Regions from separate parts of the Homo sapiens genome. Here regions 2 and 3 are each linked to region 1. The links come from fine-mapping of genetic effects on gene expression. A gene starts in region 1. Each other region holds a variant in brackets. All regions are shown on one strand. Distances are between the middles of the regions.

Region 1 (2,751 bases):
TGAAGTTATAGATTAATTTGTCTCTGCATTTTGTTGTCCAAACCAGGAGCTCGGTGAGGGTGTGATGGGGTCTGCCTTGGTCACCGTGGCACCCCAGCACCCCGCAGGGTCCCTCTGGCCAAAAGAGATGTTCACTGATGCCCTAGAAGCAGGAACAGAGGGGCTCCCCTGCGCTCGCCAAGGGCGCCTGACAAATCTGGAGGCCCCCATGACAGAATCAGCTCCAGAGTAGGAAATGTGTCTGGCTGCACGAAAGCCCCCTCGGGCGCAGCGCCTCCAGGCCCACGCAGATGTCGCTGTCATACATTGTTGGAAACGCCTCTGCTGGAAACAGTGTTTGCTGAATCTTGGAGGGAGAGGAAAAAACCTAGTAAACATTCTTGTTGAGGTGATCTGGGGGAATGTCTGCAAAGGCTTGGAGGGCTGATGGGGCAGAGCTGCCCAGGGGCCCAGGACAAAGGCCAGGCGTGCGCGCGCACACACACACACACACACACACACACACGCAGTGGCCTCCCTGGGGGCCGTGGCTGGGCGAGGCCTGCTGTTGTCCGAGATGCTGGAAGGAGCTGTGTCTCTGGGTCTGTCCCGGCCGCACCCCGTTCTGTCCCACACCCAACCACTCCCCACCCACAGGCCGGCTCCAGCGGCCAGGTGGACGGGTGCGCGGCCCGCGCTGTGAGCAGGGAACCATATCCAGCTGAGGTTTTGGGTGTGTGGGGCGGGTCGGGAACAAGGAGGCCGGGTTGGGGGGCTCAGACCACACTTGGACCATGAAAGTGACCACATGCAAATCACAGAAACGGGATGCAGGGATCCACAGACGTGCTCCTCTTGGGTCCCCGTTACCTCACCGCCACCCCTGAAACTGAAGACCCCCAAACCCACTTTAATTCCTGGAGACGGCCCCTCGATCCACCCAAAAGGCTGCCACCACCTCGAACCCACACCCCTGTCCCGGTTCCGCCCTGGGTCCAGCCACATCTCCCCAAATGCATTCTCTGGCTCCGGAAGGGGACCCGGGCGCTCGCCCCCAACTGCCCCCCGCAGCGGCCGGGCCCGGCGCCTGCCCACCCCGCGCGGGACACGGCCTCGCCCCCGCCACTCCCGCGCCGCGCCCCGCCCCGCGCCCCGCCCCGCCCGCGGCCCGCGGGACCTTTATAGGGAGCGCCGGCCGCGCGCTGGGAAGTCGGTGCCGCTGCCGTCTCTGCGTTCGCCATGCGTCCCGGGGCGCCAGGGCCACTCTGGCCTCTGCCCTGGGGGGCCCTGGCTTGGGCCGTGGGCTTCGTGAGCTCCATGGGCTCGGGGAACCCCGCGCCCGGTGAGTGGGGCGGCCAGAGGGGCGGGCGGGGCGGGCCACCCACGTGGGGCTGCGCGGAATGCGGCCGGGGGGACGTCGGGGGGCGCGGCGGCGGCGGCGGGGGCGAGGGCGGTGTCCGGCGCAAGCTGGAGCCGGGAAGGTCTGAAGGAGGGTCACCAAGAGGTCAGCAGAGCAGAGGTTTCTAATCACAATGACCGCTGACATTTATTGAGCGCTTAGTGTCTACCTCTCCCCTCCCTGAACCTGTGCCATCCCGATAGTGCCGGAGCTCTCTTCATCTCCGTCTTCCAGATGGGGAAACTGAGGCTCAGGGTCACACAGCCTGTAGCAGGCAAAGCCAGGGTTCTAGCCGCGACCGTCCGGGTCGGTCCTGGTGCCGAGAGGTAGTGCTGGGTGTCGGGAGCCAGGCCCTCCAGCTGGGGCTGAGAGCTTTCCCGGGTCCTGGGTAGACGGGGCATGGAGTCTCACACCTGGGACTTGCCGGGAGGTGCCAGGCAGGAGACGGCCCCACTCCTGGCCTCAGTTTCCCCTCCTATGATGGGTGCCAAGGTGCTGCGTTCCACAAGCTGGTCCCTGGCAGTGTCTGTGAACCAGCAAGCGCTCTGGGATGGGGGCTGTGGCCGTTCCTGCCCCCAGGGACGGGGGAAGAAATGGGGGGCTCTCTGGCTCCCCACCCCCCATCCCTGCAGCCCCACCCCACCCCAGCCCTGCGCCAAAGGGAGAGCAGAGCCCCCTCCCCGAAGGCCACGTCCCTGGGGAGACAGTGAGCTCATGCAAGGGGAATGTTCCCAAGTTGGAGTGAGTAAGAGGCGGGCCAGGCGGTGGGGGGGCTGCCAGGCGCGGGGCTCCGCGTGCCCTCGCCCTCGGGTGCTGTCTAGACAGAGGGCAGAGGCGGGAGAAGCGGCTCCAGGGCCTGCTGACCCTGACATGCCCAGTGCCTGGTGTTTGGTGGTGTTTGAGGGGTTGGGCAGGGTGCCAGCCCCTGGCCTGGGGGCTTGGAGGGTACGGGAAGGGACCTCCTGGGGTGGGTGGGGGTTGGTGGTGAGGCTGTGGGGGGGGGCACGTGGAGCTCAGAGGGGAGGAGACATTTCCAGGGTTCTGGAGCCAGGGTGGGGACACCCATGTGGTTTTCTGCCCCTTCTTCCTGGGTGGGGGTAGATCATTCCGTGCGTAACTACTCAGCACCACCTGCATGCATCTGTGGGCGGGCCAGAAGCTGGGTGTCAGGAGTGGCCCAGGAGAGCACCCCGTTCCCCGGCCCGCAGGTGGTGTTTGCTGGCTCCAGCAGGGCCAGGAGGCCACCTGCAGCCTGGTGCTCCAGACTGATGTCACCCGGGCCGAGTGCTGTGCCTCCGGCAACATTGACACCGCCTGGTCCAACCTCACCCACCCGGGGAACAAGATCAACCTCCTCGGCTTCTTGGGCCTTG
Region 2 (2,751 bases), 35 kb before region 1:
CTGCCGAGCACACTGAGGTAGGCCCTCAGTGTTTGTGGAATGTCAGGAGCAAGAGGAGAGGCTGGGCACAGCAGGGGATGTGGGTACCTGGAGGCCAGGGGAGTCGGTGTCCCCGCCGGGCGGGGGGCACTGGGAAGGGGGCCCGGGCCCGCTGGCTGCCGCCTGAATCACCACCATCAGGGCAGGTAATCACCCCCTGTCCTTCCCACCGCTTTCATCTGGGCGCCAAGGCCCTCATTAGGCCGCACGTGACGAGGGCGGACAGGGGACTGGCTGGGCCGGTCCATCCATGGCGGGCATGGCCAGGCGGGGTGGCCTCGGGCCGGGGCAGAGGCCTGGCTCCGCTGCCTGACCTGGAACAGTCTCTGCCTCTCTCCAAGCCTCGGTTTCCCCAGCTGGACGGTGATGGGGGTGAGGGCTAGCTGAGGGCTCTCCTGCCCTTCGTGCATTCGCTGGTCACTAATCGGGCACCTTGTGGGTGCTGTGCTCCGCATGGGGGACCCAGTGGTGACAGAGACGCCCACCCTCCTGGGGCTCCCAGAGCAGAGGCGCGCAGCAGTTAGACACGTGAACAAGGGCGCAGGTGGGTGCACAGAACAGTGAACGGTTGGCCGGGTGCAGTGGCTCACGTCGGTAATCCCAGCACTTTGGGAGGCCGAGGCGGGCAGATCACGAGGTCAGGAGATCGAGACCATCCCGGCTAACACGGTGAAACCCCGTCTCTACCAAAAATACAAAAATTAGCCGGGTGTGGTGGCGGGCGCCTGTAGTCCCAGCTACTCGGGAGGCTGAGGCAGGAGAATGACGTGAAGCCGGGAGGTGGAGCTTGCAGTGAGCTGAGATCGCGCCACTGCCCTCCACCCTGGGCGACAGAGCGAGACTCCGTCTCAAAAAAAAAAAAAAAAAAAGAACAGTGAATGACGTGAACAAGGGTGCAGGTGGGTGCGCAGAACAGTGAACGGCGGTGTTGGGAGGCACCTTGCCAGGGGAGGGGAGGTGCAGGGCGAGGAAGGGGCCAGGGGAGATCGTGACACAGACGCCCCAGAACAACCACCTCAAAGACGTTCCTGTGTGTCCTGGAAGGTCGGGCTGGGAGGCTGCCCCGAGGAGCTTTCACTTTGACAGGGAGCTGGC[C/T]GGGCACGCAGGGAACTGTACACCCAGCTGACAAAGCGGCAGACACCCAGGCCGGGGTGAGCGAGTGTGGGTGAGGAGTGGCGGCTGGCCCCAGGGTCCTTGCTGGACAAGACACTTCAGCTCAGGGTGGGGCAGGGCTCACCCAGGGCTACCCACAGACGATGGCGTCCAAATCTGGCTCTGCCACTCCCAGGCCTCAACTGGCCCCTCTGCAACGTGGGCTGCTGAGCGGGCTTGGTAGGACAGCTGGCATACAGTCGGCGCTCAAGCATGTCTGTGGTGTCCCATAAACCACCGGTGTCCCACTCTAGGCCACTGCCAGCCCGGCCTCCAGTCCAGAGTCCCAGTCCGGAGTCCCAGTGACTGTGCGTGGGCCGGGCAGCTGAGCTGTGAGGGCCGGGCTGGGGGCTCCATATGGGGTGGTGTGAGCTGTGAGGGCCGGGCTGGGGGCTCCATATGGGGTGGTGTGAGCTGTGAGGGCCGGGCTGGGGGCTCCATATGGGGTGGTGTGAGCTGTGAGGGCCGGGCTGGGGGCTCCATATGGGGTGGTGTGAGCTGTGAGGGCCGGGCTGGGGGGTCCCTGGGGTGGTGTGAGCTGTGAGGGCCGGGCTGGGGGGTCTCTGGGGTGGTGTGAGCTGTGAGGGCCGGGCTGGGGGCTCCATATGGGGTGGTGTGAGCTGTGAGGGCCGGGCTGGGGGCTCCATATGGGGTGGTGTGAGCTGTGAGGGCCGGGCTGGGGGGTCCCTGGGGTGGTGTGAGCTGTGAGGGCCGGGCTGGGGGCTCCCTGGGGTGGTGTGAGCTCTGAGGGCCGGGCTGGGGGGTCTCTGGGGTGGTGTGAGCTGTGAGGGCCGGGCTGGGGGCTCCATATGGGGTGGTGTGAGCTCTGAGGGCCGGGCTGGGGGCTCCCTGGGGTGCTGCTGGTCGCTGGCTCATTGACAGTTATCAGTGGTCTGGGTGGGCCCTGCCCCTTCTGACTCCCACATCCCAGGAACCCTTTCCCAACCTTCCTCGTGGTGTTGCTGCCCCCCTGACGTCCGTCCCTCTGGGTGTGTGGGAGCCCCCCCGCCATACACACACACAGATGCTGCTCTTGGGCTGAGCTGCAGGGACAGCGCTGACCTGGCCCTCCCACGGGGTCCTCATCGATCTCTGCACTCCCCCAGCTCGTGGGGGCCGTCCTGCTTCCCGTTCCCTCTGCCTGCTCCTTGCTCCTCCCTCACATGCTGGGGGGGGCTCCTGGTGTCAGTCACGGCTCTGGGGGATCCTGAGTGTCCGTCGTGGTCGGGAGGGGACTCGTGGTCCCGGGGGTCTCCTGGTATCTGTCGTGGTCCTGAGGGCCCTGCACGAAGCACAGCGGACAGCAGCGGTGCTGGGGGTGAGCCAGCAAGGCCCTCCCCGACCCCCGCCTCCCCCAGGCATCCTGGAGATCCGCTCTGTACACGTGGGCGTCGTGGTCATCAAAGCAGTGTCCTCAGGCTTCTACGTGGCCATGAACCGCCGGGGCCGCCTCTACGGGTCGGTGAGTGCCGGGCAGGGCTGGGCGGCGCGGGCAGGGTGGGGAGGGTGGGCCGGCCTCACCCCCGCCCGCAGCGACTCTACACCGTGGACTGCAGGTTC
Region 3 (2,751 bases), 98 kb after region 1:
AGGACTGGCTCCTGGCTCCTAAAGCATAGCGCCGGCTCTGGGGATCTGCCAGGGAGAGACCAGCTCCAGGGCCCCTGGATGCAGGTTAGAGCTCAGGCTGTCCCCTGATGGCCTCGGTGCTATGGGTGAGTTTCTCCACCTCTCTGTGCTCAGCCTCTCACCGGAGAGGGGGTGGGTGATCCTGGCCTGAGTAGGTGACCAAGGCATCCTCCTCTGTGGCTGGTATTTCCCAACACCCTCAATAAATTCACAGGTGGCTCAGGCCTGTAATCCCAGCACTTTGGGAGGCCAAGGCAGGCAGATCACCTGAGGTGAGCAGTTTGAGACCAGCCTGGCCAACATGGTGAAACCTTGTCTCTACTAAAAATACAAAAATTAGGGCCGGGTGCCATGGCACATGCCTGTAGTCCCAGCTACTCGGGAGGCTGAGGCAGGAGAATCGCTTGAACCCGGGAGGCGGAGGTTGCAGTGAGCCAAGATTGTACCACTTCACTCCAGCCTCAGCAATAAGAGCAAAACTCCATCTCAAAACAAAATAAAAAATAAGGGCGCAGTGGCTCATGCCTGTAATCCCAACACTTTGGGAGGCCAAGGCAGGCGGATCACAAGGTCAGGAGATTGAGACCATCCTGACCAACATGGTGAAACCTCGTCTCTACTAAAATACAAAAAATTAGCTGGGCATGGTGACGGGCGCCTGTAATCCCAGCTACTCAGGAGGCTGAGGCAGGGGAATCGCTTGAACCTGGGAGGCAGAGGTTGCAGTGAGCCGAGATCCTGCCACTGCACTCCAGCCTGGGTGACAGAGCGAGACTCCATCTCAAAAAAAAAAAAAAAAACAAAAACAAATTGGTTTGTTTATTTTCCTGTTGATTTGTGGGAGTTCTTTATATATTCTGGACCTGAGTCCTTGATTACATTATGCACTGCTAGCTAGTACCTTCTCCCAGTCTGGCACTTTCCTTTTGAGTCTTCTTCTTTTTTTTTTTTTTTTTTTTTTTTTCTGAGGCGCCTGCCACCACACCCGGCTAATTTTTGTATTTTTAGTAGATACGGGGTTTCACCATGTTGGCCAGGCTGGTCTTGAACTCCTGACCTCATGATCCACCCGCCTCGGCCTCCCAAAGTGCTGGGATTACAGGCATGAGCCACAGTGCCTGGCCCCTTTTGAGTCTCTTAATGGTGTCTTTGGACAAACTCATTTGTTCAAAATAAAATGCAATTTTTTTTTTTTTAGATGGAGTCTCACTCTATCACCCAGGTTAGAATGCAGTGGGACAATCTCTCCCAGGCTCAAGCGTCTCTTCTGCCTCGGCCTCCTGAGTAGCTGGGATTACAGGTGGGTGCCACCACGCCCAGCTAATTTTGTGTATGTTTAGTAGAGACCAGGTTTCACCATGTTGGCCAGGCTGGTCTTGAACTCCTAACTTCGAGATCCGCCTGCCTTGGCATCCCAAAGTTCTGGGATTACAGGCATGAGCC[A/G]CTGTGCCTGGCCATGTTAGGATATTTCTTTTTTTCTTTTCTTTTCTTTTCTTTTTTTTTTTTTTTGAGAGTCTCGCTCTGTCACCCAGGCTGGAGTGCAGCGGAGCCATCTCGGCTCACTACAAGCTCCGCCTCCCAGGTTCATGCCATCTCCTGCCTCAGCCTCCCAAGTAGCTGGAATTACAGGTGCCCACCACCACGCCCAGCTAATTTTTTGTATTTTTAGTAGAGACGGGGTTTCACCGTGTTACCCAGGATGGTCTTGATCTCCTGACCTCATGATCCGCCCGCCTTGGTCCCCTAAAGTGCTGGGATTACAGGCGTGAGCCACCGCGCCCGGCCCATGTTAGGATATTTCTGAGCAAATCTGAGGGTTTGGCCTGGAACCCTCAATTTGAGGTTGCAAACCCTGTTTCCTGCTAAGCCAGACAGATGGTGCTGGAGATGGGGAGGCCATGGTTTATGTTTTGTCCACTCTGGGTGCTGCCTGGACAGGTGACTCATGCATGTGGCGGAGCAGTCCAGAGTGAGGACTGTACCCCTACAGACACTCCCCCAGACCATGCTGGTGGCCTGAGCTGGGGGCTGCCCAAGTCCCCTCCCCGGGATCCACTTCTGGGGCCTCCCAAGCCTTCCCTGGGGTCAGTGAGTGCTGGAAGGGCAGCCAGCAGTGTGTGTCCACGGGGGGGGGCGGGTCACCACTTATCTGGGCATTAAATATTTGGGGGGGTCTCAAAATAATGGAAAACAGGGGGCCAGAAGTGGTGGCTCATGCCTGTAATCCCAACACTTTGGGAGGCCGCAGTGGGAAGATCGCCTGAGGTAAGGAGTTCAAGATCAGCCTGGGAAACATAGCAAAACCCTGTAATGAAAAACCCAAAAATTAGCCCGGCGTGGTGGCAGGTGCCTGTGATCCCAGCTACTCGGGAGGCCGAGGCGGGAGGACTGTTTGAGCCCAGGAGGTTGAGGCTGCAGTGAGCTATGATTGCACCACTGCTCTCCAGCCTGGACAACAGAACGACCCACTTTCTCAAATAAATAAATAAATAAATACGCTGAGGCCAGGCGCGGTGGCTCACGCCTGTCATCCCAGCACTTTGGGAGGCCGAGGTGGGCGGATCACGAGGTCAGGAGATTGAGACCATCCTGGCTAACATGGTGAAACCCCCGTCTCTACTAAAAATACAAAAATTAGCCAGGCGTGGTTGCGGGCACCTGTAGTCCCAGCTACTCGGGAGGCTGAGGCTGGAGAATCTCTTGAACCCGGGA

The links.
Region 2: its variant is fine-mapped to the expression of FSTL3 in whole blood (INTERVAL, PIP 0.94).
Region 3: its variant is fine-mapped to the expression of FSTL3 in T cells (TOPMed, PIP 0.90).

The regions. Positions count from the first base shown.
Region 1 is chr19:675,206-677,956 of GRCh38, forward strand. It overlaps FSTL3 (follistatin like 3), which reads left to right and starts at 1,187. Exons shown (of 5, transcript NM_005860.3): 1 at 1,187-1,321; 2 at 2,587-2,751. The coding sequence starts at 1,219.
Region 2 is chr19:640,686-643,436 of GRCh38, forward strand. It overlaps FGF22 (fibroblast growth factor 22), which reads left to right. Exons shown (of 3, transcript NM_020637.2): 2 at 2,550-2,653; 3 at 2,725-2,751. Among named protein-coding and RNA genes, the nearest start is that of FGF22, 2.2 kb to the left of the region's middle. The variant C/T (reference allele first, on the strand shown) is at 1,135.
Region 3 is chr19:773,276-776,026 of GRCh38, forward strand. No RefSeq gene overlaps it. Among named protein-coding and RNA genes, the nearest start is that of LINC01836, 8.1 kb to the right of the region's middle. The variant A/G (reference allele first, on the strand shown) is at 1,483.